Homo sapiens: one gene and its partners. The protein of the gene in region 1 purifies or fractionates together with the protein of each later gene. This does not show direct contact. Each region holds a gene or a part of one and is shown on either strand. Other genes may lie near its edges. The genes, in order: USP3, HPN, MAGEA10, SACS, LRP1, REST and TEAD4.

Region 1 (3,500 bases):
ACCTATACCATGTCAGTGAGTCACAGCATTTTTTTTAAACATTACATGTATTTGGTCTTTACTCCCATCTTACCTCCCCGCAAACAAGTATGCCCCAAAACCAAAAAAACCAACAAAGAGAGTAATTCTTGTATTTGCAGGACAAGTACAACTGAACCAACAAATTTATTTAGTTAGTGCTGATAAAGACAGCAGCCTTGAGAGACAAGCAGTAATTACCTGGTCTACTTAATGATGCCCTTTGTTATATTTTACAGGCAAAAAGAATGATTCCTCAGCAGTCATTGTGAAATTTTGTGGGCCACAAGTATTGTGCACACATGATCCTTGATTTAGAGTCAACCTGATGTCCATTATAGCTGTGGAAAGGCAGCAGGCAGTTGTGTCGCTCTTCACAATAAGGAACACATCTTGCTTTCAGCATGTGAGAGGAACAAAAGCATTGATGTAAATGTGCCTCAAAGTGAGAACTGAAAACATTAACATAAAATAAAAAAGTCAAATAAGACTAAGTTCTTACAACTACCTATAAAAATTGAATTATTACAACTAAAGCAGCAAATCAAAACATCTGCTGAGGTTTTCTGGTAGAACAACAACAAAATTAGTTGGTGCCCATGTTCAGTAAGTCACTACCATTGACAAAACTAAATCCAAAATAGGAAATTGAAAAGTGCATAATGAAATTAAATCTTGTATCAAGTATTTGTGGAAAACTGGAAATGTTTCTCTGGTATGGTTGGTGAATGATGATTTGGAGGAGGTATTAAAGTTTATCCGATCCAGCTTTGGCCTGGTGTTCCACGTAGAAAAGGATGTAGGCCTTCGCCTTCACCACAGTCTCCTCGTCAGTCAGTGTTACAGTACTGTCATTGAAGTGGAACCAGCGGCCTTCGTGAGTTGCGTATGCTGTGTAATGTCCAGAACCAACCCTGTAAAGGCAAAAGACCAAAGGAAAAAAGAACCTCAGAAATCACAAAAAGACCTGTACAACTATATAATGTTAGATTTAAATTTTAATAAGAATACATCCTAGACTTTTGATTTAAGATGCTTGTTAAATTAATGTTTTTACCTTCCTCCAAACTGACCAGAAATCGAGGGTTTGCTAGAACACAAAGCAGATGGCCCTGGACTAATGGAGAAAACAGAGATGAGGAACTCGCAACCTAACAAGCACAGGTCAAAGCCTACGGAAACATGGAAAACTAGGTACCAGGTTTTCCCATCAGAATCTTAGGAAAAAACTAAGCTTAACAAAGAAGGGCACCCTTCCCTGACACCGTGGTCATCAGGGGCTCTACCCTATCAGCATGACCCACCCACTCACACACACAACCCTGGAGTCAGTCCTCCAAGTCAGACGGAAGGCCTGCAGCTAGAACAGACCTTTGTAGGTGCCAGGAAAACCCTATTTAAATAATAAAGATCCATCTCATCATTTACTATGATTCCAAATAAACCACCAAAACCAAATTTTAAAAACAAGCCTTTTGCACGCCTACAAAATCACATTTTTGAGGGGAAAGAAATACCGGGAAGAACAAGCAAGGCAATCAACCCTGAGGAATTGAATGCAGAAAACCTAAGAGAACTTTACATTTTTAAATTAGTGCTAATAGTTTCAAAAAGATAGTGCAATCATAAAACAAGAATAGGCTGTTACGAAAAAGTTGTCAGAAAAATGTGACTGATTTAATATAAATATTTTATGGAGGAGCTTATCTTTTATTTGGATACAGATGAAACCCAAATTGGTGATTTGGAAAAGTAGGCCATGGCAGTCTTTAGAAACACAGACAGAAATCATTAGAGTATTTAAGACATGTGGAAGGGAGATCCAGGAAATTCACTATGCATATAATAGGGGTACAGAGAACAAATGATTTCAGACCTACAGTATAGAGAGTTTCATGAGCTGAAGGCACCAAATTAAAAGTGTCCCTACCAACTACCAAGCAGGAATACACTCCAAGGAGAAAAAAGCCAGGTGCCTGTAAAGTAGTGAGAATCAGACTTGTCATTCATAACACTATGTGAGTGTAGACGTTACTTTATCACAGCTCTGCGGGAAAAGGATTTTCAACATGGATAGTCGTCTGCCCACATATAGTAGTCTTAAGTTTGAAGGTAAAATAGCCACTCTCAAACCAAAAACCAGAAGGTTAGACCCCTCATACAAACTTTCAGGGGAAAAAATTAATGTTTTTTAACAAGACTTAAAATGAGTCTTTAAAGTAGATGATATGGAGTAAGTTATTCCAAGTAATTTCCCCTTTTGCCCCATTTAAATTTCAGTTGGTAAACGAATAAGCAACTTTGGAGTTTGTGGACAAATAAAGACTGGGTCGTAAATACTGGGTTCAAATGAACCATTCTTCATTTCACTTTTATTTACCTTCCCTTAAGCCTTCACAACATCATCTGAGGAGTACTCTTCCGCACCAAAACTGAAGGAAATTTCACCTACTTTATCTGAATCCATTTTTTAGGAAGAACTAGCAAGAGTGGTACAAAACTGCAGGTCATTGGGCTGGCCACCAGGTATTCCCACCCACCAGAAGCTGGCTGTTGTACTCACCCGGAACCATGGTGCACCACCACAGCGGCGAGGTCATACAGGCAGCTCTCCGGGCCACTGTTCTCAGGCTACAGAACAAGGAAGAAGGAGCAGTGGTCAATGACATCAGTATCTCGATGACCTCTACCCTCTCCATGTGATGACAATCTTACTGAAGAGCCATTTTTTCACCATGCTAAAAAGGTAACCACCTTACCTCTAGTAAGTAGCATTTCATGTCTAGGCCTCTCAGTGGAAATTCTACGTATGTATCAACTTTATTTCTTAAATATGCTGTCCAATGAAATCTTTTCAAATGTAAGCATAGCACCTGGAGGACAGAGATGCGGTCAAAGATTGTGAACACCTAATTTACCTTTCAGTCAAAGTTTGATACTACTATCAGTTCAGTAAATAACATTTTAGCTGCCCTATCAATCATTCTTCCATGCATACCTTATGCATTCATTCTGTAAGGGGTTTAGCTTTTACTGAAAATCCTAGAGAAAAATACAGAACAGTTCACATAGTGTAAAGTTATAGACATGGTCTTAGCAGTCAAGCACTTTCCCATTGAAATTGCTTCATAACTCAAAATTCAACACTCACCTTGGGTAGTTTTTGAATCCAAAACTTTTTTGTGGACTTTTGTTTCTTTTTGCATTTATGGCACATATATAACTCTGTCTCATCAAGTTCTTCTAAGTCGGTAAAACTGCGAAGACAATCTAAACAAATTGATTTTGGCAGCATTAAAACAAGATGCCTTTTGTAGAGGCAATGTACTGTAGAAAAAAGACCCAGGTTTAAAATCTCAGCTTTATTAGCTATACGACCTTAGAAAAGTTAACCTTTCTCAATTGCAAACTGGAGACAAAAAATAATACCTACTTTGAAGAACTATTATAAGGAAGAGAAATAATGTGTAGAGCACCTGGCA
Region 2 (3,500 bases), on another chromosome or scaffold:
AACAAATTTGTTCTTCTATTTTCCATATGCTGTCTGTGTACGTATAAAGTGAGAGGTCTTTTTATATGAGTTAAGGGTGTGACCAAAGACAAATGGAAAAAGACAAATGACAAACATACTAATAAAGAGCTTCGGTTTCTCCACAAAAAATACAATAATAAAATAAAATGTTATCAGAAATCTCTTGACTCTCCTCCACGTTAGCTCACTTTTTCCCTCAAGAGGGTGAACATGACCCTTAACAGATCCAGCCTCAAGTGCTGGATTCTCTTGGGAACTTGGTTAAATGGTTTTTTTTCTTCCCGAATGTCCAAGTCACCTTCCAGACCTGCAGCTCCTGAGCAGCCAACTTAGGACTTCTAATGGAGAGTGAAGTTCCCCTGGTTCGCGGAGGGGCCGGCCACAGCCTCAAGGCTGCTGTTGATTGGTCCGACCTGAGTCCTTGAGTCTGGCAGAGTGCCATGGTGCTCTGTAATCCCACCTGTAATCCCAGCATTTTAGGAGGCAGAGGCAGGAAGATTGCTTGAGCCTAGGAGTTCAAGACCAGCCTGGGCAACATAGCAAGACCCGTCTCTACAAAACAAAACAAAACAAAACAAACAAACAAAAAAATTAGTCAGGTGTGGTGGTGCACGCCTGTGGTCCTAGCTACTCAGGAGGTTGAGGTAGGAGGATTTCTTGAGTCTGGGAGGTCAAGGCTACAGTGAGCCAAGATCACACCACTACACTCCAGCCTGGGCAACAGAGCGAGACCCTGTCTTTAAAAAAAAAAAGTCCTTGAGTCATGATTCCAGATGCAATCGCAGATGTGGGGGCTGCAACCCTCCGATGGGCTGGGGTTCACGTCTACACCACATGGCTGGAGCACAGGCCAGGAGGGGCTCCGGCTGGGGAAGCATGTGGGGAGCCTGGCTGTGGGACCCAGGCGGCCCCGGGCCCTGTCGCCCTGCAGTGCAGGTCAGCTCTGCGGACGCTCGGCTCATGGTCTTTGACAAGACGGAAGGGACGTGGCGGCTGCTGTGCTCCTCGCGCTCCAACGCCAGGGTAGCCGGACTCAGCTGCGAGGAGATGGGCTTCCTCAGGTACTGGGGGCCCTCGGAGGGGTGGGAGCCGGGAGGGGCTGGGGAGCAGGCCTAACCCCTGCCCCGCCCAGGGCACTGACCCACTCCGAGCTGGACGTGCGAACGGCGGGCGCCAATGGCACGTCGGGCTTCTTCTGTGTGGACGAGGGGAGGCTGCCCCACACCCAGAGGCTGCTGGAGGTCATCTCCGTGTGGTGAGGAGGGCAGCGGGCAGGTGGGGCAACACCTCAGACCCCCAAGGCACTCCCTCTCCCCGTTTTCCTTCCACCTGTCTTAACTGGTCTCTATTTCCTTTCTTTCTGTGTCTCCAATCCCATCTCTCCCAGTGATTGCCCCAGAGGCCGTTTCTTGGCCGCCATCTGCCAAGGTGAGATCCTAAAACTCAGAACCCTCTCCTTTAGGCCCTTGGGGAGGCCACGTCCCCTCAAGCTCCCCAGGATGGGGCCATGTACTTTCAGACCCCCTAGGGCAGGGCCAAGCCTGGGCTCTGGGGACCTGGGCTCCAGTCCCCTGTCGCCGCCCCCTGCTGACCCTTGTCCCACAGACTGTGGCCGCAGGAAGCTGCCCGTGGACCGCATCGTGGGAGGCCGGGACACCAGCTTGGGCCGGTGGCCGTGGCAAGTCAGCCTTCGCTATGATGGAGCACACCTCTGTGGGGGATCCCTGCTCTCCGGGGACTGGGTGCTGACAGCCGCCCACTGCTTCCCGGAGTGAGTGCCCCCCAATGGCGCTGATGATGGGGAGGCAGAGGAGCGGAGAGACAGTGGGGAGGAGGGCGGATTGTGCCCAGGCAGGTGGCCACCCTCCACCCCTTTCCCTGGTAGGCGGAACCGGGTCCTGTCCCGATGGCGAGTGTTTGCCGGTGCCGTGGCCCAGGCCTCTCCCCACGGTCTGCAGCTGGGGGTGCAGGCTGTGGTCTACCACGGGGGCTATCTTCCCTTTCGGGACCCCAACAGCGAGGAGAACAGCAACGATATTGCCCTGGTCCACCTCTCCAGTCCCCTGCCCCTCACAGGTAAGTCTAAGGGCTGAGCCATGGGGCTTGAGGACCCGAGGCCAGGAGGACAGAGGAGGGGACCAGGGGCACAAGGCAATCAACTTATGGCTCAGGCATCCTTGGCAATAAGGGGAATGATCTCGAGGGAGCACAAAGTGGGCCTTAACTATCAATGATCAGTGCAGCCAATTTGGAAAATTTGCCAGCATTTCCCCAAGAAGTATACATAAAGTTACCATTGGACCCAACACTTCCACTCCCAGGACAGGAGGTATATACCTAAGACAAATGGAAACTGTGTCTGCACCAAAACTCGTACATCAGTGTTCATAGCAGCATTATTCATAATAGCCCAAAGATGGAAACAGCCCAAGACTGTTTCATCGGACAAATGCATAAAGAAAATGTGGTATATTGACCGGGCGCGGTGGCTCATGCCTGTAATCCCAGCACTTTGGGAGGCCGAGGTGGGTGGATCACGAGGTCAGGAGTTTGAAACCAGCCTGGCCAACATGGTGAAACTCCATCTCTACTAAAAATACAAAAATTAGCCTGGCCAACATGGTGAAACTCCATCTCTACTAAAAATACAAAAATTAGCCTGGCCAACATGGTGAAACTCCATCTCTACTAAAAATACAAAAATTAGCCTGGCGTGGTGGCACACGCCTGTAATCCCAGCTACTCGGGAGGATGAGGCAGGAGAATCTCTTGAACCCGGGAGGTGGAGATTGCAGTGAGCCGAGATCACACCACTGCACTCCAGCCTGGCTGACAGAGCAAGGCTCTGTCATCTTGAAAATAAATAAATAAATAACAAAAAAAATGTGGTATATCCACACAACGGGAGAATATTGGACCATAGAAATGAATGAGGTACTGATTCATGCTACCACAAGGATGAAACTTGAGAACAGTGCTGAATGAGACAAGCCAGCCGCAAAGGCCACATACTGTAGGATGCCACTTGTATGAAATGTACAAGGCTGGGCACGGTGGCTCACGCCTGTAATCCTGGCACTCTGGGCAGCTGAGATGGGAGGATTGTTTGTGCTCAGGAGTTTAAGACCAGCCTGGGCAACATAGCAAGACCCCATCACTTAAAAAAATGAGCTAGGTGTGGTGACGGATACCTGTAGTTCCAGTTACTCAGGAGGCTAAGGCAGGAGGATCACTTGAGCCCAGGAGTTTGAGGCTGCAGTGGGCTAGGATTGTGCCACTGTACTCCAGCCTGGGTAACAGAGCAAAACCTTGTCTGTTAAAAAAAGAAGAAAGAAAGAAAGAGAAAGAAAAGAAAGGAAGGAAGGAAGAAAAGAAGAAAAGAAAAGGAAAGAAAGAAAAGAAATGTCTAGAATAGGCACATCGGTAGAGATAGAAAGTTGATTGATGGTGGCAGGGTGGGAGGTGGGGATGGGAGATTG
Region 3 (2,768 bases), on another chromosome or scaffold:
ATCTTCAATCCCAAAGTGAGACACAGGGCCTCGAGGGTGCACAGGCTCCCCTGGCTGTGGAGGAGGATGCTTCATCATCCACTTCCACCAGCTCCTCTTTTCCATCCTCTTTTCCCTCCTCCTCCTCTTCCTCCTCCTCCTCCTGCTATCCTCTAATACCAAGCACCCCAGAGGAGGTTTCTGCTGATGATGAGACACCAAATCCTCCCCAGAGTGCTCAGATAGCCTGCTCCTCCCCCTCGGTCGTTGCTTCCCTTCCATTAGATCAATCTGATGAGGGCTCCAGCAGCCAAAAGGAGGAGAGTCCAAGCACCCTACAGGTCCTGCCAGACAGTGAGTCTTTACCCAGAAGTGAGATAGATGAAAAGGTGACTGATTTGGTGCAGTTTCTGCTCTTCAAGTATCAAATGAAGGAGCCGATCACAAAGGCAGAAATACTGGAGAGTGTCATAAGAAATTATGAAGACCACTTCCCTTTGTTGTTTAGTGAAGCCTCCGAGTGCATGCTGCTGGTCTTTGGCATTGATGTAAAGGAAGTGGATCCCACTGGCCACTCCTTTGTCCTTGTCACCTCCCTGGGCCTCACCTATGATGGGATGCTGAGTGATGTCCAGAGCATGCCCAAGACTGGCATTCTCATACTTATCCTAAGCATAGTCTTCATAGAGGGCTACTGCACCCCTGAGGAGGTCATCTGGGAAGCACTGAATATGATGGGGCTGTATGATGGGATGGAGCACCTCATTTATGGGGAGCCCAGGAAGCTGCTCACCCAAGATTGGGTGCAGGAAAACTACCTGGAGTACCGGCAGGTGCCTGGCAGTGATCCTGCACGGTATGAGTTTCTGTGGGGTCCAAGGGCTCATGCTGAAATTAGGAAGATGAGTCTCCTGAAATTTTTGGCCAAGGTAAATGGGAGTGATCCAAGATCCTTCCCACTGTGGTATGAGGAGGCTTTGAAAGATGAGGAAGAGAGAGCCCAGGACAGAATTGCCACCACAGATGATACTACTGCCATGGCCAGTGCAAGTTCTAGCGCTACAGGTAGCTTCTCCTACCCTGAATAAAGTAAGACAGATTCTTCACTGTGTTTTAAAAGGCAAGTCAAATACCACATGATTTTACTCATATGTGGAATCTAAAAAAAAAAAAAAAAAAAGTTGGTATCATGGAAGTAGAGAGTAGAGCAGTAGTTACATTACAATTAAATAGGAGGAATAAGTTCTAGTGTTCTATTGCACAGTAGGATGACTATAGTTAACATTAAGATATTGTATATTACAAAACAGCTAGAAGGAAGGCTTTTCAATATTGTCACCAAAAAGAAATGATAAATGCATGAGGTGATGGATACACTACCTGATTTGATCATTATACTACATATACATGAATCAGAACATCAAATTGTACCTCATAAATATCTACAATTACATGTCAGTTTTTGTTTATGTTTTTGTTTTTTTTTAATTTATGAAAACAAATGAGAATGGAAATCAATGATGTATGTGGTGGAGGGCCAGGCTGAGGCTGAGGAAAATACAGTGCATAACATCTTTGTCTTACTGTTTTCTTTGGATAACCTGGGGACTTCTTTTCTTTTCTTCTTGGTATTTTATTTTCTTTTTCTTCTTCTTCTTTTTTTTTTTTTAACAAAGTCTCACTCTATTGCTCTGGCAGGAGTGCAGTGGTGCAGTCTCGGCTCACTGCAACTTCCGCCTCCTGGGTTCAAGCGATTCTCCTGCCTCAGTCTCCTGAGTAGCTGGGATTACAAGTGTGCACCACCATACCCGGCTAATTTTGTATTTTTTAGTAGAGATGGGGTTTCACCATGTTGGCCAGGCTGGTCTCAAACTCCTGACCTCAGGTAATCTGCCCGCCTCAGCCTCCCAAAGTGCTGGGATAACAGGTGTGAGCCACTGCACCCAGCCTCTTCTTGGTATTTTAAAATGTTGTTACTTTTACTAGAATGTTTATGAGCTTCAGAATCTAAGGTCACACGTTCGTTTCTGTTTATCCAGTTTAAGAAACAGTTTTGCTATTTTGTAAAACAAATTGGGAACCCTTCCATCATATTTGTAATCTGTAATAAAATAACATGGAATTGGAATAGTAATTTTCTTGGAAATATGAAAAAAATAGTAAAATAGAGAAAATAATTTTAAGTGTTAGTATTTTTATTTCTTTATTATTTTTAGTTTATCATCCTGCAAAATTAAAAGTTATATCCCTGGATCTTGTTAAGTCGAAATTAAACTGTAATAAATGAAACCTTTGCTCACTAGTGCATTTTTTCCCCAAACATCCACTGAGCATCTGGTCTGTGGAAGGCCCTGGGTCTGTAGTGGAAATGTTAAGCCAGAACCACCTTTACCCATAGGGTGGTAGAGTCTAGGGGCTGCAGTCAAGTAACAAGGTGGCAAGATGTCCTCTAAGACCCAGAAGAAAAGTAAGACGGGGTGAGGGTATTGGGCTGTAGGTGAGAGTGGTCACGTACATCCTCTGAGCCAGGACTTTTGGGGCTTTGAGAAACTGCAGTTCCTTCTGGTGAAGATGAATCCAAAGAAGCTGGGTGGTGCCAGGGTCAGAGCCTCACATAGTTGACAGAGCAAATCCTGGGATGTAAAACTGCTCTGAGCAGTTCCTTTTGGGTGGTGGATGAACAGAGAGGAGTCCACCTGGGGCAGGAATGGAAGGTGTTCTGCACTCTTGTCTCAGTGCAGTTGAACTCCTAATTAAATTAAAAAAATAACTAGGTGATAGATACCCAT
Region 4 (3,975 bases), on another chromosome or scaffold:
ATGCCAGGAACAAGCAAGGGCTCAATATTTGTGTGCTGAATTAAACTGATTACAACTGAACCATGTAAGAATGGTGGTAGCCTCAGAGAGGCAGCCTCACTCCACAGGCGCATGCCACCGAGGGCCTGTTGGTCCACACGGTGCTACAGTGAGAGCTCAATGAAAAGGCCCTGCAAGACACCATTTCTCCCCAATAGAAATGTGCTTTGTTTGTGATTATTCAGTCCTTTTGTTAGAACAGGTCTCCCACCTATCTCCCAGGAAATAATATGTACACAAATCTGTGAGTCTAGGATGTGAAGGAGACACCATTAGATGTGGCATCTTCTGGGTCAGACCAGTGCAGGGCCAGGTACAAGAAGCAGGGGCTCTCCTTCCCCAGTTGCTGCTGACATTTGGGGCTTGCTTTGGTCTTCTCCCAGGAGAGATCATTTGAGCCTTTTCAGGTCTGGAGTTGTTTGAACTGACTTAAGAGGAATTTTCCGCAGGAACGAAGCAATAAGAAGCTTCCGAGATCCAGTATTTCCAGATAAGCCAAAATTCTAGATTTATATGGATAAAGCAGGCAGTTCTACTAGGAGACTATCATGAGGAATATGATGTACCCAGGCCAGTGGCAGGATAGCTGTGCGCCGAAATGAAATAAATGCTGGTGGTATTTCACATACCCCATCAGAGGAAGCAAGAAAATAGAGTTACAATATTTTGTATTATTAAATTGAGACTAGCAATTTCAACTTAGAACAGGATCAATTGTATAGCATTTCACAGTTTACCACACATTTTGAGTGAATGCTTTTTTTTTTAACCATTGGAACCTCATAAACAACTCCAAATAACATACAAAAAGCAGATTGTGAGCTACAACATTACCAGGTCACAGGTCTTCATTTCCCATGAGGTACTCGAGACCCATGAGTGACTTGTCTAAGGTCACACAACTGGTGTTTAATAGAGCCAGTCTTCTGTTAGCCATACCTACTGCTAAAAATTAGCCTTTGCAAGTGAAGAGAACAAAAACGTGTGGTTGGTTGTCACCCCCACAATGAACGACAATGCTGCACTTGCAGCATTATTGACACCTAAGGTTGATGACAGTCCTGTCTCTTTAAGAAGAAAAAAAAAGGCTGCTGGGTAGGGGGAGCGACTGACTGCGGCAGGAGCCGCCTGGACCCAGTGCGGCTGCGGGACAGTCACGCTGGGAACTGCTGATGGCACTGGAGGAAAACAAAGGCCGAGAGACCCTGATGCCCACAGCCCCCAGTAAGTCCAAGGTTCCAGCTGGGTGGCCAGCGAGGGCAGCTGCAGGAGCGGCCTGGGGACGGGCAGGCTCCATGGTGTTGTTGGCCATCCGTCCCCTGAGCCTTGGGAAACCAGGGCTCGGCCACTGCAGCTGCTTGGGGGAGGTAAGGGGCCACTTTCCTTTAACATACCCGCCTTCGGAGAGGACAGAGACGAGAGGGCCTTCAGCGTGCTGTACAGCTGTGAGTAATGAGCTCTTCTGAAAATGTACAGTTTGGGTTGGCTGCTTGTGAATTTGTGGGTGAGGAGCGGCTGCAGGGTGACTAGAGAGATCTGCCGCGGTCAAGATGCTGGACTAGCCGCTTTGTCATTTTAATTTCCACCCGGGTTGCCAGGCACCGCCACAATGGAGCTGTTGCAGTAACACAGCGTGGGGTCCAGAGTCTTATTGAACAATAAGATGGGATTCTCAAAGTAGCTTACGGTTAATTTGCAGAATTGCTCTCACTTTAAACAGCATGCCTTCAAACAATGCCATATGTTATGGTTATCTTATATAATATTTGAAAATCCTGCTTTTAGTTAAAAAATATTTCACATATTTAATTTTATTCTAATAAGCGATCATTAGATTCTTTGAAAGAGTATTCCAGCTTTAGCAACAAAACCTCTCTCTCGCTGTCTTTTTTTCTTCCTTAAAACGAGGTCAATACCTCAGAGAAGAGGACTGGATTTGTTTCTATTAAAACATATCAATTGTTTTGGCTTTAATCTTAATTCTCTCTGCCCCTGAAGATGGATAAAGCCCATTCCGCTTAAGTAAAAGGCAGAAGCCAGGTTGAATCCACGTGCTTCCCAAGCGCAAGCTGCTCTGAAGTTATTTTGAAGGGGAACTCTTCATTTCTCCATCAGTGCAGATAAAAGTAATTGATTCACAGGTCATGGATGAAAATAATAATAATAATAATAAATAATTGACAATCCCATTTTATTTGTCACATGACAAGTAGATTTGCCATTCTGTTTTTCTTAAGCTGCCCATTGATAACCAGACTCATTCTACGTTAATGCAGGGTCATGATGTCCCAGTAGTTTTACTTATGACCATCCAGACTGCCTTCCCTAATCTTGCCCTGAAGCCTCACTTTGGGCTGTGACAACGATCCCCAGTTTCCTTTCCTCTATCCTCCTTAGCCGTCCCTTTCATCCTTTCTTCTCCTTCCTGGGCTGTTTGGGCAATTTTTTCTTTCTTTTCTCCTTGGATCTTAAAGACTCCTTCAGTCTCCCTTTCAAACAAAGCAAGCCAGATTTTCTACATACCCTATTTTCCTTTAATCTTACTTGGTTTATAAGAACTTTTCCACGATTAAGTGTTTTCTATTCTTCACATAATAGGAAGAAAAGTCCAATTATAGAACTTGAAGACCAAGGTTTGCTTACATCTGAAGCATCTCAAAACCATTGCTTTACGCAGGACTTGCCCCCAGAAGCCCCGGGTTCCAATCTCAGGTCTACCACATCCTTACTCTGCAGCCCCTGACAATCCACATAACTTCTGTGAGCCTCAGTTCCCTCCTGTGTCAGAGATGACACAATTATTCACTTAATGGTCACAGGGTTGAAACCAGGTGATTTGTATGAAGGCGCCTAGCAGGGTTCTTCACACAGTGTCACTATTTAGTAAGAGTTTTGTCGTTTTCTCACTCAGTCCACCATCTACCTAACCACCATGGTGAAGCATGCTAAAGTGGTTCATGCACCATTTCCCAAAAGGAATAAATTTTGAAATGAACTTTTGGCTGAGTGCATCTGAATGAGTCCTGATCAGTACAAAATACATATTCAGTTCTTGCTATGCACGAAACACTGTTCTAAGCCCTCTTGTCTATAAAAGGAACGCTGATGTTTCCATGTTGCCATAGGAGTATTCTTTGGAAGAAGGAAGGCCGATTCTCTTTGTACAACTCTTCCTAAATCCTTTAAGACAGCAGCAGTGATGATGATATTGACCACTCCCACCATGAGCCTACATGAGGACTACTAAATGTGATTGATGCAGAGGATGCCAAATTGGAAGTCAGGACAATTCCCATTGCTATTCTGATCTTGGACAGCCTGGGTGGCAATTTGCTCTTTGCAATGACAATCCTGTTACTATTTTAATTTCTACTTTATGTGTCTTTCTCCTGCCGTCTTTCCTTTCCTTAACTCACACTCAGGATATTGTGTAAGATTTTAACGTCTAGGAGAGGCCGTTTCACCCCTACCTAAGGGGGAACATAGCGAAGTTGGGAAAAGCACTGGATTGGGGACCAAAGGGTGTGGCTCCAGCCCTGCTTTGACTTCTCTTTGTGCTAATTAGAAAGCCTTTTAACGCCATCTCTAAGGCAAGAGACATAGAATAATCTTTCAATTTCCTTCAGGTTCTGACTAGATGATTCAGATAGCTCTCTTTGGGGTAGCCTCAGTTTACAACAATTATTTGATCAAATTAAATGCTTTTATCTCATTGATTCTTACAATAGCCTTATGAAACAGGCAGCCCCATTTTGCAGATTACAAAATGCAACCTTAAGAGAGAGTAGAACCCCAAGTATTTCTTATTAGTAAAAGGAGAGACTGACTAGATGGTAAGACTCGATTCCCTTGGGGAGCATCACTGAGTTCTCAGACTGAACTCTGAGCTCTGTTCCTACCATGGTATCCCCCTCAAGGCACTTCAAATTGACGACG
Region 5 (2,690 bases), on another chromosome or scaffold:
TCCACAAAGTGAGACGTCAGTGCTTCAAGAGCAGACTCAGGCAGAGAGAACCGCATGGGAGGACCCTGAAGGATGAGAAAACCTTTGCAGCCTCAGTGTATTCACTTCTTATAGTGGGGCTTCTCACTGTGGGTGATCATTTTGGGTAGGGGGGTGGTGTCTGGTAGAAGTGAATGCAGAGAAACAGATCTGAGTTAGTGTCCTAGACCCAGAGGGAACACAAAATCTGGAGACTCGAAGTCATGGCTGAAGGTCACACAGCCAGGAGAAGCAGATCTTCCATGTCAAGTCCAGTGCCACCCGCTTCCCGGGCACAGTAAGATGGAGAGGGGGAGGGCCCTGGGAGAAGGGCACTAAAAACCACGCGCCAGCCTGCCTCCAGCACGGGGCAGGTCTCCCTCTGGTGGCCGAAGCAGGAAAGCGCAGCCCCAGCTCCCAGCGTCTCTCACACACAGGCAGACACCAGCGGCTTTTTTTCTTTCTTTTTTTTTTTTTTGGCCTTTTTTTTTTTTTTTTTTTTTACAATTTTATTTATAACAATATCTGTGTTATTTAGTTGTAAAGGAATTCAGCAAAAATTATTAAAACGTTCACGTCCCCAAAACGGGGCTGCCCGCTTTCCCTTCCTGGGTGTGGCCCACCTCCTTGGCGTCCCCAGGGGAGGGGAGGCTGGAGGAATGTTTACCAGAGGAAGTCTCCAGCCCTGGGAACCTCGGTGGGGGCCCTGGAGACAGGGAGGGCCTGTCTGGGAGGGGGGTTGAGCATGGCCATCTCATAGGTGCCCCTGGAGTTGGGGCTGGGGTTTGGGGTGGCCTCCCCCAAGAACTAAAACACTCCATCCTTTCCCGCCTACCTCACCCAGAGCCACGTCTTCCAGACAGGGGCAGCAAAGAACTCTCCCTTCCCAGAATTAGCCCTCAGGAAGCTGTGGGAGCGGGCAAGCAGGGATGGGGCGAGAGGGGAGAGCCTTGGCAAAGTGTCTTATACAGGGAGGGGAAGGCTGCACCACCAGCTCTCCCAGTGGGGTGCGTTCTGGTGGGAGGGTAGGAGGTGCAGCCCCAAGCCCTCCCTGCCTGTCTCCCTGAAGGCAGCATGGGGGTGCCAAGGAGCAGGCAGGGAGGGGATGGAGAAATAATACTGTGCTCGCTTGCCGGCTTGCTCGCTCACATATAAAATGTAATTCCTTCATTTTTACATTTATACATCCGGCGGGGCCAGGGAAGGGCTGGCTGGGGAGGGGCTCACTGAAGGACTTCACTGGCAGGGGGCAGGAGGCTTTCTGGGGGCAGTCCGACGGGGCAGGGCCCTATGCCAAGGGGTCCCCTATCTCGTCCTCAGGGCCCCGGCCCAGGAGTTCTCGCTTCTCGTCCGTGCTGGCCAGGGAGTGGCGACTGCCATGGCCCCCCATGTAGAGTGTGGCATACACGGGGTTGGTGAAGTTGGTGGGCTGCAGGGTGACAGAGGGTTCAGGTAGGGCTCAGGAGCTGGGCCTGTAGCCCAGGTTACCCCACCCCCACCTCCGTCCCTCACCTAACCCAACACCTTTGGTTAGGCCACCCACGGCCTCTTGGCACTCGACCCTGCCCGCCTCCCAGCCCACCTTGTCAGGGTCCAGGGCAAAGTCAGCGTCCAGTAGGCCTCCCACATCATCAGGCTCTCCGCCTTCGTACATCTTGTAGGTGGGGTTTCCAATCTCCACGTTCATGGCCCCGTTGGTCATCCGTTGGTGCTGGAAGCCCTTAGCCCTGGGGAAAGGCAGGAGTATAAGGAGACAGAGATTATTGGGGGGGAAGGCTAGGATGGCAAAATAATGACCAGAATGTTCCAGAATCCCTGTGACTCACCCTTGGACTCGCCGCTTATACCAGAATACCACTCCGGCCACCAGAACCAGCAGCAGCAGCAACAGCAGAGGGATTAGGATGGAGGCTATATCTGGAGGGAAGAGGTGGGACACTGAGTCACCAAGGCTCAGGGAAGCAGGAGGCACACGGTCCCCCTGCTCTAGGTCCCGGTGGCCCTGCCTGCCCCAACCCCTGCCACCTACGTCCTGGCTGCTGCTGGCTGAAGACGTGCTCCTCACACCGGGGCCCTGTCATGTGGGGTGGGCACCTGCAGAAAGGAGGGACACGGCTGAGTAGGTATAACCTCCATAGCCACTGCTGCCAGGAAAACAGGGCGGGGGGTGGGCACTGAGGCCTGACGGTCCTCCTGCTCAAATCTGGGGAAGGGAGCGATGATCTATGCCTGGGTGAAGCCCGGGCCCAACTCACTGGCACTCAGGCATCATTTTGCTGTTCATGGTACAGGAGCCGCCATTGCTGCAGTGGCCGACGCAGGTCAGACAGCTGGGGGCCACCCGGCCATCCGTGCAGCTGCAGGAAGGAATCAGAGGCTGGGGCTGGGGCTGGCAGAGGCGTGCCTGGGATGCTGAGGAAGGGAGGGGCAGGGCAGGGCTAGGACAGGGCAGGGGCCCAGCTGGGTGGAACTGTGGAGGAGGGCCCCACTCACTTGCAGGTGACATCCCCACTCTGCTTGTTGACCACACAGGCCCCTTCGAGACAGCGGCTGCACTTGTTCACCTCACACCTCGATCCCTCAAAGTAGGCAGTGCAGCGGCATTGTCGGGAGCCATCAGCAGCCATCTGGCATGTGCCAAAGTTCTCACAGTAGCCAGAGCACTGCCCTGT
Region 6 (2,223 bases), on another chromosome or scaffold:
AATTCTAGGCTCCGACAATCATTGTCAACAGAAGATCAAGCTGCAAATATTTATGTTTTAAAACTTAAATTATAAAGCTAGTTAAGTCTTTCTAATGACTAGTTTTAATGTTCATGGGTACATTTTACCTAAGTTACCGTTTACATTGTATAGAAAAAGATACATCTTAAGCACAGATTGGTTATTAGGAATTAGTTTGGGGAAGAGGTTTTTTTGTGGATTCTTTCATACTGCAAAGAAAAACCATTTGCCTTTTGGGGAATTGAGCTAACTTCTAATCTAGTCTTAAGACTAGAATGCTAAAAACAAAAACATGAAGGAAATTAAAACCCCTTATTATTAAATTGATTTGTAAAAACATTGTTACTGGAAATTTATTGGACTTGAGGCCTTCCTCCAGAAAATAAGGACTTGATTGTCAGGCCTATATTAGGTTCTGAACCTTAATGCCATGTATTTGTACTTACTAAAAATTGTTTCAATGAAAAGTACATTAGCAGTATGAACTTCTGGTCCAGTTGGAAGTTTTTCCATTTGAAAAATGTGATGTTTGCATGGAACTGTTTGAAACTTTTTTATTTTCTAGTCCCCCTCCCCCACACTGGATAGAATTTAGCCTAGAATTTTCCCTTTGGATAAAAGAACAAAAATTGAACATGTTATTTGTAAATTGATGTTTAGTAATTAGTGATAAACTTGAAATACTAGCATATATTATAAGCCTTAATCTTAGGTAGTCTTATGAAAATGAATCTCTTAACTATCTTTTGAACCTGTATTCACATTGGTTTTCAAGATATTTTAAGTTATATTTTTTCCTCTTTTCAGAGCTGCTTCTTATTCTGGGGCTACTTTTTTTTTTAGTTGTGTAATTCACAAAGGGCTGCATTTTTTTTTTTTTTTAATAAGGCTTATAACTATGGCTGGATCTTTTGCTCTAGTCTTCTAAGAAGGGCCATTTTATTTTTTAGAGTCACTTCTAAAGTCATGTGGTAATTAACTTTGGAGACTGTTTTGCGTATGAGTGCTGATACAAATTAAAACCCAAGTAGACCTCATTGCATGTCACCCTATGAATGTTGACAATGGAAGGAATACCTTGCCTGTAGTATACTGTCACTTCTGGATTGATAAGCTGAGGAAGAAAGTTAAGTTTCTTTTTTACATAAGTCAGAAAAACTTACAGCTGGTGTTCCTAGTTTCCTGGTTGACCTCAGCAGATGAAGTGAACAGATAGTGTTAATTCAGATTGAAGAAATTATCTGAATCTTGGTTTGTGTAGATTTACAATCTACATGCAATATTAACTAAATCAGATAGCTTTTACAGTTTCACATGTGTACATAGGTTCCCTCCCGGTCCCTTCCATATCCATTAGTTATTGAACTTTCTAAACTGGCATTGAAACATTACAACAATGTTTTGTTGCACCAATTTTATAAACTTAAGCAGTGCAATACGTGTTACTTTTCTGAGGCAAACCAAAGGTAAATTTCTCAAGGTTCTTGCTGCCTTCTTTAGCAGCATTTGATGGAAGATCTTTTATACATTTGTAATAGATAAAAATAAACCAGATTGCAAATCCTTTTTTAAAATCCTAAACCATGTACCAAGTTTTTGGTCCAAATTATGTAGGATAAGTTAAACTTAAATTGCATTCTATTAACCAATATGAGTGTATTTCTGTAAGCATAGTTATGTTGAAATAAAGTTTTAAAAACCATGATGCCTTTGTTTATTATTGGTATATCCAGAATGTAGGAAAGCCAAATTTATGTTGCTGGAACTGCAAGTGTATTAATAGGCTTTTGAAGATTATTTCTCAGGCTGGGCGCAGTGGCTCACGCCTGTAATCCCAGCACTTTGGGAGGCTGAGGCAGGTGGATCATGAGGTCAGGATTTCAAGGCCAGCCTGGCCGACATAGTGAAACCACGTCTCTACTAAAAATACAAAAATTAGCTGCGTGTGGTGGCAGGCGCCTGTAATCCCAGCTACTCGGGAGGCTGAGGCAAGAGAATCGCTTGAACACAGGAGGTGGAGGTTGCAGTGAGCCGAGATCGTGCCATTGCACTTCAGCCCAGGCGAGAGTGTGAGACTCTGTCTTTAAAAAAAAAAAAAAAAAAAGTATCACAGGTAGAAAAGTCACAGCATGTTGTCTGAGGTAACAGTCCAGTATGGGTAGTAACCCAAAGCATACACTGCTTGATGGGAGGTGCGGGAGA
Region 7 (3,500 bases), on another chromosome or scaffold:
CGGTTGCCTTCCTTTTTAAAGCTCCTATTTCGCTGTAGGTATACACCACATTTTGTTCATGCATTCATCCATTGATGGACACTTGGTTTGCTTCTACCTTTTGACTCTTGTGAATAATGCTGCCGCGAGCATGAGTGTACATATATATCTTTGAGACCCTGCTTTCAGTTTGTTTGGGTATATACCCAGGTATTGGGTCATATGGTCTTGCTCTGTCACCCAGGCTGGAGTGTAGTGGCGGGATCTCGGCTCACTGCAACCTCTGCTTCTCGGATTCAAGCGATTCTCCTTGTCTGAGCCTCCCGAGTAGCTGTGATTACAGGTGCCCGCCACCACACCTGGCTAATTTTTGTATTTTTAGTAGAAACGGGGTTTCACCATGTTGGCCAGGCTGGTCTCGAGTTCCTGACCTCAAGTGATCTGCCTGCCTCAGCCTCCCAGAGTGCTGGGATTACAGGCGTGAGCCACAGCGCCCGGCCTGTACCATTTTGCATTCCCACCAACAGTACCCAGGATTTTGCATGCTTTTTGCCCAGGGTCGATTTAATGTCAGTGCATCCCCGGCACTGCATCCTTGTCTCCTACTTTTCAGCCCTTGTCTGGGTTCCTTGATACCAGGGAGTGCCTAGGTCATTGTGCTCATTCGACAGATGGGAAGATGAGCTCTCCAGAGGGGATGGGACCTGTTCAAGACCCCAGGCCTGATTCTCACAGATCTTTCACTTCACGCTTTGCTTCCTGAGCAACTGATTCGGGCTCTGGCACTCCCCGGAGTGCCTTCATCCCGTGGCCCACGCAGTTCTTCCACTGCTCACCGGGGCTGTGGTTCCTGTCCCCACAGGTCCAACGAGCGCTCCTCCAAGCGGAGCCTTGGAGGGCACGGCCGGCACCATTACCTCCAACGAGTGGAGCTCTCCCACCTCCCCTGAGGGGAGCACCGCCTCTGGGGGCAGTCAGGCACTGGACAAGCCCATCGACAATGACGCAGAGGGCGTGTGGAGCCCGGATATTGAGCAGAGTTTCCAGGAGGCCCTCGCCATCTACCCGCCCTGTGGCAGGCGCAAAATCATCCTGTCGGACGAGGGCAAGATGTATGGTAAGGAGCCCGTCGGGTTCAGCCCTGTACCTGAGGCTGAGGCAAGGGGCCGACACCAGAACCTTGGGGTTCCTGCCGGGCCACAGAAGGGGATGACCACTTGGGGCTTTGTCGGGTGGACACTGCTTTCTTCCCTCCTGGGCTCCCAAGGGATGGGGGCATCTGAGGAGAAGCCTGTGAGGGGGTGTGGAGGGTGGGGCCCCTGGCGGTGAGCAGAGATGGGAGTGGGAATCTTGGAAAAGGCGAATCTGGGTGGGGTAGAACATCCCCCCAGAGCAGGTGGGGAGCACCCCACAAGCTGTACCCCAGCAGGTGCCTGACCAGCAGGCTGCCCACCTTGGCTGTGAAGGATGCTCACTCATCCCCTCTTTCCCTCACTCATTCATGCAACAAACAGATGCCGAGCCTTCTGTGTGCCTGGTGTGGGTTAGACGGGTCTAGTCCCAGCCTGTCATCTGGGGTGAGGGTAATGTGAGCTCACAGATACCTGCTCTGCAAGGCAGCCTGGAGAGTTCCTAGGAGAGGCAGAGTGCTGGAGACCACTCCCCTAGGAAAGGCCCCCCCCAACCCAGCAGAGGGTCACCAGAAACGGCTTGATCTTTGTGAGTGGCTGGGGTTGCAGAACACAGCTGAAACTGTTCAGCGATGCATGGGAAGGACCAAGCAGTTGGCATGGGGCCACGATGACTTTTGGATGGAAGAGGGGGCATCTGGAAAAATGAAGCAGGGGCTGGGCATGGTGGCTCACTCAAGCCTGTGATTCCAGCACTTTGGGAGGCCAAGGTGGGAGGATCACTTGAGGCCAGCAGTTTGAAACCAGCCTGGGCAACAAAGCGAGACACCATCTGGAGTAAAAATAAAAAAAATTACCCAGGTTTGGTGGTGCCAGCCTGCAGTCCCAGCTACTGGGGAGGCTGAGGCAGAAAGATCTCTTGAGGCCAAGAGGTCAAGGCTGCATTGAGCCATGAGTGCACTGTTGCACTCCTGCCTGGGTGCCAGAGTGAGGCCCTGTTTCAAAAAAAAAAAAAAAATGAAGCAAGAATAAAAACTGAATGGCTGTTGGAAGGCCCAGATAAGGCTTCTGTTCCTGTTGGAAAGTCCTCTAGGAATCCTAGCTCAAAACAGTGGTCTTGGGGCAGGAGTGAGAGCCCTGAGTGGGTCTCTAAATGGCTGAAGTCAGTGACAACGGGGCCCCTGCCTGGCTTCCAACAGGATGGCCCCAGACCAGCTGCCCACCCCCACGGGTTTCCATTCATTTCTCCCCCACACCCAACGCTGGTGCCACCCCCACCATTGTTGCTTGGCTCGGCTTCCCCAGGGTCGCCCTTACTTCTGGGTCGGCCCTCTAGACTCTCCCTGCTTTGACCACTTCTTGCTCTGATGGTTGCTTATTTTTTCCTTTTTCTTTTCTCTCTCTCTCTTTTTTTTTTTTTGAGATGGAGTTTCACTCTTGTTGCCCAGGCTAGAGTGCAATGGGCGCAATCTCAGCTCAACGCTACCTCTGCCTCCCGGGTTCAAGCGATTCTCCCACCTCAGCCTGCCGAGTAAGCTTGGATTACAGGCACGTGCCACCACTCCTGGCTAATTTTGTATTTTTAGTAGAGACAGGGTTTTTCCATGTTGGTCAGGCTGGTCTTGAACTCCAGACCTCAGGTGATCCGCCCACCTTGGCCTCCCAAAGTGATGGGATTACAGGTGTGAGCCACCGCACCCAGCTTTTCTTTTCTTTTCTTTTGTTTTTGAGACAGAGTCTTGCTCTGTCGCCCAGGCTGGAGTGCAGTGGAGCAATCTCGGCTCACTGCAGCCTCCGCCCCGTGGGTTAAAGTGATTCTTCTGCTTCACCCTCCCGAGTAGTTGGGTCTACAGGCGTGCGCCACCACGCTCGGCTGATTTTACAGGTGTGAGCCACCATGCCCGGCCTTGCATCTGTATTTCTAAATAAAATACTTGAATGTGTTTGTGGCAGTTAAGATAAAATTTGTCTTTAACAGATCCCAAATAACAGTGGCTTACATAAGGGAAATTTCCTTCTCTCTCCTATAAATGTCTGGAGGGTAGGTAGTCCAGGGAAGGTGTGGCAGCTCTGCTCCATGAAGCTCTCAGGGACCCAGGATGCTTCCGTCTTGTGGCTCATGAGCATGCCTTCCATTGTGAATGTTCCCTTAAGGCCCAAGCAGCTGCTTCAGCTCCAGGAGTTACATTGCAGCTAGCAGACAGGAGAATGGGATGAAGAAGAGTGACCTGGATACATTTAAGGAAGACACTGGGAAACTAACCCCTGAAATATTTACTGGCCAGAACTCCTGTGAAGTCCCTTCCACCTCTACTTGTGAAGTTCTGCTTCTTACTTTTAGCGCCTGGGGAAGCGTCATGGGGGAGACAGCTGTGTGTGGAGCACCTGGGG

What was found.
Region 2: the proteins of USP3 (region 1) and HPN purify together in Homo sapiens (co-immunoprecipitation; one large-scale study listed by IntAct). This does not show direct contact.
Region 3: the proteins of USP3 (region 1) and MAGEA10 purify together in Homo sapiens (co-immunoprecipitation; one large-scale study listed by IntAct). This does not show direct contact.
Region 4: the proteins of USP3 (region 1) and SACS purify together in Homo sapiens (affinity purification with mass spectrometry; one large-scale study listed by BioGRID and IntAct). This does not show direct contact.
Region 5: the proteins of USP3 (region 1) and LRP1 purify together in Homo sapiens (affinity purification with mass spectrometry; one large-scale study listed by BioGRID and IntAct). This does not show direct contact.
Region 6: the proteins of USP3 (region 1) and REST purify together in Homo sapiens (affinity purification with western blotting; one study listed by BioGRID). This does not show direct contact.
Region 7: the proteins of USP3 (region 1) and TEAD4 purify together in Homo sapiens (affinity purification with western blotting, with the first as the bait; one study listed by BioGRID). This does not show direct contact.

What each region holds. Positions count from the first base shown.
Region 1 is NC_000015.10:63,588,093-63,591,592, reverse strand, and holds part of USP3 (ubiquitin carboxyl-terminal hydrolase 3), read right to left. Parts: exon of another isoform or gene 3,289-3,500; coding exon 3,170-3,288; exon of another isoform or gene 2,892-3,169; coding exon 2,778-2,891; exon of another isoform or gene 2,650-2,777; coding exon 2,582-2,649; exon of another isoform or gene 2,493-2,581; intron 933-2,492; coding exon 767-932; 3' UTR 1-766. UniProt on the Homo sapiens protein: Deubiquitinase that plays a role in several cellular processes including transcriptional regulation, cell cycle progression or innate immunity.
Region 2 is NC_000019.10:35,058,721-35,062,220, forward strand, and holds part of HPN (serine protease hepsin precursor), read left to right. Parts: intron 1-338; exon of another isoform or gene 339-952; coding exon 953-1,082; intron 1,083-1,153; coding exon 1,154-1,276; intron 1,277-1,408; coding exon 1,409-1,449; intron 1,450-1,626; coding exon 1,627-1,792; intron 1,793-1,906; coding exon 1,907-2,097; intron 2,098-3,500. UniProt on the Homo sapiens protein: Serine protease that cleaves extracellular substrates, and contributes to the proteolytic processing of growth factors, such as HGF and MST1/HGFL. Plays a role in cell growth and maintenance of cell morphology.
Region 3 is NC_000023.11:152,132,810-152,135,577, reverse strand, and holds the end of MAGEA10 (melanoma-associated antigen 10), read left to right. Parts: coding exon 1-1,067; 3' UTR 1,068-2,268; downstream 2,269-2,768. UniProt on the Homo sapiens protein: Not known, though may play a role in embryonal development and tumor transformation or aspects of tumor progression.
Region 4 is NC_000013.11:23,430,903-23,434,877, reverse strand, and holds the start of SACS (sacsin), read left to right. Parts: upstream 1-1,175; 5' UTR 1,176-1,263; exon of another isoform or gene 1,264-1,484; intron 1,485-3,975. UniProt on the Homo sapiens protein: Co-chaperone which acts as a regulator of the Hsp70 chaperone machinery and may be involved in the processing of other ataxia-linked proteins.
Region 5 is NC_000012.12:57,211,172-57,213,861, reverse strand, and holds the end of LRP1 (prolow-density lipoprotein receptor-related protein 1 preproprotein), read right to left. Parts: intron 2,687-2,690; coding exon 2,512-2,686; intron 2,376-2,511; coding exon 2,274-2,375; intron 2,113-2,273; coding exon 2,048-2,112; intron 1,936-2,047; coding exon 1,845-1,935; intron 1,746-1,844; coding exon 1,601-1,745; intron 1,448-1,600; coding exon 1,307-1,447; 3' UTR 501-1,306; downstream 1-500. UniProt on the Homo sapiens protein: Endocytic receptor involved in endocytosis and in phagocytosis of apoptotic cells. Required for early embryonic development. Involved in cellular lipid homeostasis.
Region 6 is NC_000004.12:56,934,122-56,936,344, forward strand, and holds the end of REST (RE1-silencing transcription factor), read left to right. Parts: 3' UTR 1-1,723; downstream 1,724-2,223. UniProt on the Homo sapiens protein: Transcriptional repressor which binds neuron-restrictive silencer element (NRSE) and represses neuronal gene transcription in non-neuronal cells.
Region 7 is NC_000012.12:2,993,897-2,997,396, forward strand, and holds part of TEAD4 (transcriptional enhancer factor TEF-3), read left to right. Parts: intron 1-841; 5' UTR 842-870; coding exon 871-1,096; intron 1,097-3,500. UniProt on the Homo sapiens protein: Transcription factor which plays a key role in the Hippo signaling pathway, a pathway involved in organ size control and tumor suppression by restricting proliferation and promoting apoptosis.